Regions from separate parts of the Homo sapiens genome. Here regions 2 and 3 are each reported to be linked to region 1. Evidence: microRNA targets listed by miRTarBase, many of them from high-throughput screens and not tested one by one. Region 1 holds a microRNA gene; each other region holds the end of a gene's coding sequence.

Region 1 (3,268 bases):
TAATTTTTCTAATGGATTAAAATCTGAATAGGTACATTAAAAACTAGCATAGCTCAAATAAATGTCCTCTTTTTCCAAAGATTATTAAAGAGAGTTTTCTTTTTCTTTAACCCAGCTATTCAAATACTCTATTAGACCAGGACCTGTAATAATACAGGCCTTGTCCAGAAGGGATCAGGTTTCTATGTTATATAATTAGGCAAGACTTTAAATAGTAAGACATGCACCTGTGGTGCTTTTGTCTCTAACTCCACAAATTTCAACATGCATACAAATCAAGAAGGGGTGGGGGTGTTACATGCAAATTCTGCTTCAGTGGGTGTTGGAGCCTGAGATTCTGGCTTTCTAACAAGCTCCCAGGTAAGTGCTGATGCTGCTGCTTTGAGGGCCACACACCTTGAGGAGTAGGAAGAGTACTCATACTGGAAGAGTATTCAGCACGGACTGGAATCCTGCATACATATCTGAGCTCTGTGTTCTGGTATGTATATAGACTTTTTAAAAAAATTAGTAGAGATGGGGTCTCACCATTTTGGCCAGGCTGGTCTCAAACTCCAGGGCTCAAGAGATCCTCCTGCCTTGGCCTCCCAAAGTGCTGAGATTACAGGCATGAGCCACTATACCTGGCTTATATAGACTGCTTCTAAGGTCCATTCTAACTGTACAATTCCATGATTCAGTCACTGTTTGGCTATTAACTAATTTTTTTAGGCTTCTGATTCTCATTGTTTATAAGCTGCTATATTAGAGAATGTTCTGTACTGGAAGGCCAGATAAAAAGTCTTACTTATGGCCAGTAAGTTTTATTTTTCAATCTTCTACAAGTCTGCCTCAACCCATGGGAAATCTTGGCTAATAGTAACATGATACTGGGCTTGGACCATAAACTAAACTTGAGTCAGCAATGTAGGGCTTTGGTTAGATAAGCAAGAATGAACTTGGGAATATAACCAAAAGAAAGGGACAGCTAATCCTACCAGAACAGGCAGTATTTATATGAATACTTTTTTCAAATATCCACAACTGGGAAAAGCTGCTGAACACATAAAGAAAAGTTAAAAGCACGGCATTATTTAGCTAGTGAAAAGAGAACAAAGAATGCCTTAAGAATAATTTTTGAATGGCAGCAGAAACCAGCATATCCTGTGAAGTAAATGCATTTTCAGGACCTCAAAATAGATTTAGGTTGCCTCTAAAGCAGAACTTTCCCATGATAATGATGATCCTAGGTGGTAGGATTGCCAATGGTAATTTTCTTTCCCAAAGATTCTTACAACCAACCATAAACCTACTAGATAACCTATCAGTTGTGTTATTAACTGATATATCAGTTGGGGTTCAGTGCAGACACTTCTCTAGGTACTGAATGCTAAGAATTATATGCTTAAAAATTATATGCTCTTACCATTAGAAGAGCTGGAAGAAGGCTGAGGGAGATGCCTTCTTCCAGCCCTTCTAATGGTAGGAGCATTAAGAGGGATGCTGTTGGGCTCGCAGTTCAGTCCACACAGCTACAATCTAGAGGTCAGGAAGCTATAAAGTCCACTGCTGGCATCACAGTCATTTCTCACAGATGAAGTTAGTGGCAATGCAGAGGCACAGAAAGTCTGGTCATTAAAAACCACATTTAATGTTGCACGTACATCAACAACTACCAGTGAAAACTAATAGGCAGCCAGGCATGTTGGTGCATGCCTGAAGTCCCAAACATTTGGGACACTGAGGTGGGAGGATCCTTGAGCCCAGGAGGTCTAGGCTGCAGTGAGTTGTGATTGTGCCACTGTACTCCAGCCTGGACAGAACAAGAATCTTTCTCAAAAAATAAATAAATAGAGAGAGAGAAGGAGGGAGGGAAGGAGGAAGGTAAAAAGAGAGAGAGAGAAAGGAAGGAAGGGAAAGAAGAGGAAGGAAGGAAGGAAGGAGAAGAGAAAGAAAAGGAAGGAAGGAAGGAAGGAGAAAGAGAAAGAAGGAAGGAGAAAGAAGAGAAAGAAAAGGGAGGAAGGAAGGAAGGAAGGAAAACTAATAGGCAGGGGAAATAGCCTCTCTCTTCCTTTTACCTTTCTAATTTCGCATCATTATATCTGACTGGCACAGTTTAAATTGTTTAACAAATCCTATTAGCAGCTCAGCCTAGAATTATAGTTATTGAGCTTTGTTCCTAACTCAGTATAAATCTATCTTTATTGAAGTATAGCATACAGACAGAAAAATGCACAAATTATAATCAGAGAGCTTGATGAATTTTCATAAAGTAAACACACCTACATATTGCTAGCACCCAGATTGGGAGGCAGAAACTACTACCATACCAGAAGCTCCCTTCATTATCTTTTCTAGGCATTATCCTCCCTCAAATTGACTGTAATCTTGGCTTCTAATACCCTAGACCAATTTGGCCTATTTTTAAACATTAGACAAAATGGAATGATACAGTGTGTATTATTTTATTACTGGCTTTTCCTACTCAACTATTTGTGAGATTCATTCATGTTGAGAGTAATAATAGTATCTTCATTTTCATTGCTGTGTAGTATTCCATTGTATGAATATAACACAATTTATACGTTCTACCAAAGATGGACATTTGGGTTGTTTCCAATTTGAGATTACTGCAACTAGTGCCACTGTGAACATTGGTGAACACACACACACACACATATTTCAGTTGGATATATAAAAGTGTAATTTCTCTGATGCATGGGGTTCAGCTTGAGTAGTACTGCCCAACAGTTTTTCACATCTTCATCAAAACTTGATCTTTTCCATCTTTTAAATTTTAGCCATTCTCTTCAAAGACTAATGCAGTGTATTGAATCTCATTGTTGTTTTCATTTTTCTGATATCAAATAAACACCTTTTTAATTGTTTATTGGCCATTTGGGTACCCTCTTCTGTGAAATGCCTATTCATGTGTTTTGTGTGATTTTCTATGGGCTTGTCTGCCTTTTCTTGTTTTTATAGTCCTTTATTCTGGATATGAGTCCTTTGTCGGGTATATGTATTGATAATATCTTTTGCCACTATGTGGCTTTTTGTTTTTTGTTTTTTTTTTTTGAGATGGAGTCTTGCTCTGTCACCCAGGCTGGAGTGCAGTGGCGTGATCTCGGCTCACTGCAAGCTCCTCCTCCCGGGTTCACGCCATTCTCCTGCCTCAGCCTCCCAAGTAGCTGGGACTACAGGTGCCCGCCACCATGCCCAGCTAATTTTTTGTATTTTTAGTAGAGACGGGGTTTCACCATGTGAGCCAGGATGGTCTCAATCTCCTGAC
Region 2 (3,112 bases), not on the chromosome of region 1:
GCTTCCTGGGGTAATAGGGCCTGGTTATTTCTACACAATGTGAGAATTCTCCAAAGAGCAGCCCTAGCTTTAGAGCTCCCCATAGAGTTGGCAGAAACTTTCTCAGATCTGCATAAACATCTCTTATGGACTAAATTGCACCCCCCAAAATTAATATAGTGAAGTCCTCACCCCCAATATGATGACTGTCTTTAGATACAGGGTCCTCAGGGAGGTAATTAAAGTTTACTGAAATCATAAGGGTCAGGCCCTGATCTAATAGGACTGATATTCTTAGAAGAAGAAGAGACACCAGAGAGATATAACCAGCTATATTTAAATACGTATTTTAATCATACTTCATCCAGTAGGAAAACAAATAAACACTGTTGATCTGTTCATGATCGAACACACAAACAACAAAAACCCACATGCAAACACATAGAAATAAAGTCAGTGAACAATCAATAGCTTAAGAACTCTGTGCCACCACTTGAGATAACAAAGCTATAGCAAATGCTTCAAACCCAAGTTCAGAACTCACTAATGGAGAATTAAGAACGATGATCAAGGACACAATTTTTGAATAGCACATAGGACAGAAGTGCCATCAAGGAAATTACTTGGAGATTAATTGTTAACTTACACCCCCATGTTTATCACGGCACTATTCACATTAGCAAAGATATGGAATCAACCTACGTGTCCATCAATGGAGGACTGGACTTTTTTTAAAGTGGTATCTTAAAGAACTAGAAGGCCAGGCACAGTGGCTCACACCTGTAATCCCAGCACTTTGGGAGGCCGAGGTGGGCGTATCACCTGAGGTCAGGAGTTCAAGACCAGCCTGGCCAACATGGTGAAACCCTGTCTCTACTAAAAATAGAAGAATTAGCTGGGTGGGGTGGCAGGTGCCTGTAGTCCCAGCTACTCAGGAGGTTGAGGCAGGAGAATCGCTTGAACCTGGGAGGTGGAGGTTGCAGTGAGATGAGATCGCGCCACTGCACTCCAGCCTGGGCAACAGAGTGAGACTCTGTCTTAAAAAAAAAACAAAAAAAAGAACTAAAAGTAGAACTACCTTTCAGTCCAGCAGTTCCACTACTGGGTATCTACCCAAAGGAAACAAAGTCATTATGTGAAAAAGACACATACACCTGCATGTTTATAGCAACATAATTAGCAATTACAAAGGCATGGAACCAACCTAAGTGCCCATCAACCAATGAGTGATAAAGATTGTGGTATATGTACAGCATGGAATACTACTTATCCATAAAAAGGAACCAAATAATGTCTTTTGTAGCAACTTGGATGGAACTGGAGGTCATTACTCTAGGTGAAGTAACTCAGGAATGAAAAACCTGGACTTGTTTGTATGTTCAACCAACATACATAAGATCCATATGAACATATCGTATGTTCTCAGTTATAAGTGGGAGCTAAGCTATGAGGACACAAAGGGATATGAACAATATAATGAACTTTGGTGACTTGAAGGGAGAAAGGTTGGGAGGGGGGTGAGGAATAAGAGACTACTACCACTTGGGTGACGGGTACACTAAAAACTCAGAAGTCACCACTAAAGAACTCATCCGTGTAATGAAAAACCACATGTACCCCAAAAACTACTGACATAAAAATAAATTTTTTTAAAAAAAGAAAACATGGTATGTATCTACATATGTCTATATCTATATAGATATCGAGGATATATACAATGGAGTACTACTCAGCCATAAAAAAGGATGAAATCATGTCTTTTGCAGCAACATCGATGGGACTGGAAGCCATTCTCTTAAGTAAGGTAGTAAAGAAACAAAGTCAAATGCTGCATGATCTCACTTATAATTGGGAGCTAAACAATGTATACGCATGGGCATTATAACAGAATAATGGACACTGGAGACTGCAAAAGGTGAGAGGGGAGTGAGAGTTTAAAAACTGCCTTGGCCGGGCGTGGTGGCTCACACCTGTAATCCCAGCACTTTGAGAGGCCAAGGCAGGTGGATCACAAGGTCAGGAGTTCGAGACCAGCCTGGCCAAGATGGTGAAACCCCGTCTCTACTAAAAGGCATGGGTGGCACACACCTGTAATCTCAGCTACTCAGGAGGCTGAGACAGAAGAATCACTTGAACCCGGGAGGCGGAGGTTGCAGTGAGCCGAGATCACTCCACTGCACTCCAGCCTGGGAGACAGAGTGAGACTCCGTCTCAAAAAAGAAAAAAAAGTGCCTTATGTTCACTATTCAGGTAATTGGTACGCCAAAAGCTCAGACTTCACCCTTATGCAAATGCATGTTAAGAAATCTGCATTTGTACTCTCAAAGTATAAAAAAATGTTTTTAATTTTAAAGAGTAAGAATTTCAAAATAAAACATTTTTGCCATTGGTGCTCACAAAACTTCTTAGTCCTGGGGCCAAGGGATCCATCACAAACAAGAGGCTGCCCTGCTGAGGAGACTCCCCAGGGCTCCCTTCACATCCTTGTTCCTCAGGCTGTAGATGAAGGGGTTCAACATGGGGGTGACCACAGTGTACATCACCGAGGCCACGGAGATTTTCTGGGAAGAGTGAGTCACCGCAGAAGTGAAGTGGACCCCAATGCCTGTCCCATAAAATAAAGAAACGACGGAGAGGTGAGACCCACAGGTGGAAAGTGCTTTTTGTTTTCCCCCAGATGAGGACATCTTCCTTATGGATGAAGCAATTCGTGAATAAGAGAAAATGATCCCAAGGAGGGGAAAAACGCCCAGCACACCCGTCATAAAGTATATCAACGTGCTGTTCAGGAAGGTATCAGAGCAGGCCAGCTGGAGGATGTACGTCAGTTCGCAGAAAAAATGTGGAATTTCAAAATCTTTACAGAAGATTAGATGCATCATCAGAGAAATATGGAGGAGGGATGTCATGACACCAATGAGCCAGGTGACAAAAACCAGGAGGCCACAGAGGTGGGGGTTCATGATGATCATATAGTGCAGAGGGTGGCAGACAGCCACAAACCGGTCATAGGCCATCACGGTCAGGAGTAGCGTGTCCAGAATAGGAAAAAACATGGAGAAATAGACCTGTGTGAGGCAGTCCATGTAGGAGATGGCTTTGTTCTCGGTCTGGATGTTCACCAGCATCTTGG
Region 3 (3,112 bases), not on the chromosome of region 1:
TAGGGCGAAGAAGGACATTTTATAGAATAAATAATTTTGCTGATCTCTACAGGATTTGTTAGGTTGTTTCCAACATGAGTGTGAGAAGCTAAGTTGAATGTTGCACGGGGTAAAGTTTGCAGTGCTAATTGTGTCCTTTTCTCCTGCAGCGCCTACATAAACCTCACCATATTTGGAAGATTCCTACTCCATTTGCAAGTCATGCTTTTCACCCTATTGATGGCTTTCTTCAGAGTCTACCTTACCATATATACCCTTTTATCTTTCCATTACACAAGGTGGTTTATTTAAGTCTGTACATCTTGGTTAATATCTGGACAATTTCCATTCATGACGGTGATTTTCGTGTCCCCCAAATCTTACAGCCATTTATTAATGGCTCAGCTCATCATACAGACCACCATATGTTCTTTGACTATAATTATGGACAATATTTCACTTTGTGGGATAGGATTGGCGGCTCATTCAAAAATCCTTCATCCTTTGAGGGGAAGGGACCGCTCAGTTATGTGAAGGAGATGACAGAGGGAAAGCGCAGCAGCCATTCAGGAAATGGCTGTAAGAATGAAAAATTATTCAATGGAGAGTTTACAAAGACTGAATAGATTATTGCCCAGTTATTCTTAAGTAAGGACAAAGAAGGAAATATCATCGTATTTCTTTTTTTTAATAAGGAAAAAATAATATCCATACAGTCAAGATACATAGTAAATGGTATCATTTGGAAATCAGCATCGTGGGCACTGCTGAGGAATGATCCTAGTGGTAGGTCAGAAGAAGATGCTGTGAACACCAGGACTTTAATCTTATGCTTAAAATGCCAGATGTTGTTCGGGGGACAACTTGTATCTTTCTAGCAGCAGATCTGTAGTTTGTATAGCCTCAACAACAATTTTAAATAAGATGGAGAATAAATTATTGAGGGGACTAGGCTATATGCATTTGCCTTCATCCACCCATGTTTATTAAGAATCATTGTGCTTAATAATACCAAGACTAAGCACCATAACCAAGAAATACTAATGTAAAGATTGTTTCTTGTTTCAGGAATGGTTAATTCTTCAACGTTGGTATGATAATGATAACTTGTTTTGACTTGAATAAAGTACTACATCAGTGTGGAAAAAAATTCTGATACATTAGCAGCTATGTAAATGACCTAATTGATAGCAGGTGTAATAAGACTATCGTCTTCCTACACATAGGAGGCTCATTCTCTGGACACACTATCACCTATTACATTTTACTGATTAACAAATAAATTGGAATTTAAAAATATCGATATCACCATGATTTAATCCAGATCTGGGATTATGTAGCTAAACATTGTGATGATTATTATTTAAAACCATTATTTAATAAGAGTAAAAATATGTGAATCTGGATATATTTAAAAAAAGAAATTTGATGCCCAGATAATATATTAGGCACTACTGATTTTTTAGTTAAATTGATGCACTACACTTTTGATGTTTGAAGTTACAAACCTGTAATTTTTTTGTAAAGGAAATAATTGCCAAATACCTAGGCCCATTGCTGACGATTAGTTCTAAAATCTTATTCCTCCTCTTCTCCCCTCACTTTTCCCTACTTCCTCTGCAAAAAGATTTAACAAATACATTCATAAGGAAATGTGTGTTGTAACAAATATATTGCAAAAACATAGTTTGTAAAGGCATTCTATAAGCTATTTATGTAAAATCAATAAAAGTTGATCATAATTAAACTGTATCAGTTGAGTATTATAGCAGCACAAAGTATTCTTTGTACAGATTTTGTGCCAATTTGAAGCCACAGAAATGATGTGGATTGTTAATTGTGTTTTAGAACATCCCCGGACACTCAGTGTCACAGGGGGAAAGAAGTGGGTACCACATTCTGTTTATATTTCACATTTTAACTAGATTTGAGTGTTTTTAGCAAGAAATCAGTCTTAAAATCTAATGTCTGGGATCCAGAAGAAAATGTCTTTAATCTGTGAGTTATTGTCACAATGTCATCTTATTTAAATGTACCAATTAGCATTTTGTAATAGGCAAATGTCATTTAGTGCTTTTCACCAATCCCACTCACCCCCGGTGCTCCGCCTTGCCTAAGAAAAAGAAATTAAGGAGAAGTAAACTTTATTTCCTAATATAATGTCAGCTGATATTTATTGAGCTTTTCCTCTTTGCCCAGAGACTAGGACCCAAAGAAGTTAAGTAACTATTCCCAGGTTTATTTCTCTCTCATATGATGTCCCATGTGGATGTTTGTGGTCAGTGGACAGCTTTCCACCTAGTCTTTCTGCGACCCAGGCTCCTTCCTCTTGGGGCTCTGCCTTTCTCTCAGTCCATAGAGCCCTCTTTGTTGAAAGAGCACATAGGAAAAGAAGGAAAAGTCTGTGTGGAAAATGTTTCTGGGTCAGGCCTGGAAGTGGTGCATATCTCTTCCGCCCATGTTCCTTTGGACAGAACTCCGTCACATGGCCCACCTAGAGAGATTTTGGGAAATGTGTCCAGCTGTGTGCCTGGGAGGAAGGGGGCACCATTTTCTTGAGCAGCTAGACAGTTTGCCGTATTTGTGGTGTTCTCCTCTTGTTGATGTTGAAATGGTGAATGAGCCATAAAGTATTTCAGGTTATCCACACACTAATCATCTCAGTGTCTTTAATTCTTAACTCCAATATGAATGTTTAAAGCTTCCTCTAGATTCTTATTCCTATATAACTAATAGAGAAGAAAGGACAGCTTCCTATGGGGAAGACAGAGGCTTCCTCATAGATGTTAGGAATAATCAAACTTGCCCCTGCCCTTTCACCCGTCTCAAATTCTGGTCTTTTAAAGCAGCGTTATGTTAAGTAGTCCTAACATTGTAATATACAGTACTGCCACATTCTCCTACTTTCTATTAGAGGAAGTCAGAGAATATTTATGGAAGTGAGGACCCAAATTACCTTCTACAGATGACTTTTATAGTTACAGGACAGAAAGTGAAAATCAAGGTTACGTTTTCTACTTTTGTGGTAGAAATTGAGAAGTGGGTGGATATGGTTCGAGAAGACCTTTCAGAAACACAGAGACTGAGTCTTTGTCTTCCATGCTGTCTCTGCAGTACTGAGTGAATTTCCTTA

What was found. Region 1 holds the annotated microRNA hsa-miR-6512-3p (UUCCAGCCCUUCUAAUGGUAGG, at 1,445-1,466, shown strand). A microRNA usually pairs through its seed, bases 2 to 8, with sites in the 3' UTR of a target mRNA and lowers its output. Matches are read on the target gene's strand: a 7mer-m8 pairs with bases 2 to 8, a 7mer-A1 pairs with bases 2 to 7 and ends in A, and an 8mer does both.
Region 2: miRTarBase lists OR7D2 as a target of hsa-miR-6512-3p. Seed matches in the 3' UTR shown: 7mer-m8 at 2,160-2,166 and 7mer-m8 at 987-993.
Region 3: miRTarBase lists SC5D as a target of hsa-miR-6512-3p. The part of its 3' UTR that is shown has no 7-base or 8-base seed match.

The regions. Positions count from the first base shown.
Region 1 is chr2:177,312,009-177,315,276 of GRCh38, reverse strand. It overlaps MIR6512 (microRNA 6512), which reads left to right and starts at 1,395; the gene lies at 1,395-1,471. The region is part of intron 6 of LOC100130691 (Putative uncharacterized protein FLJ44553); the gene reads left to right.
Region 2 is chr19:9,186,017-9,189,128 of GRCh38, reverse strand. OR7D2 (olfactory receptor family 7 subfamily D member 2) reads right to left here. Exons shown (of 3, transcript NM_175883.4): 3 at 311-3,112. The coding sequence ends at 2,409. Among named protein-coding and RNA genes, the nearest start is that of OR7D2, 8.6 kb to the right of the region's middle.
Region 3 is chr11:121,306,908-121,310,019 of GRCh38, forward strand. SC5D (sterol-C5-desaturase) reads left to right here. Exons shown (of 5, transcript NM_006918.5): 5 at 150-3,112. The coding sequence ends at 605. Among named protein-coding and RNA genes, the nearest start is that of SC5D, 16 kb to the left of the region's middle.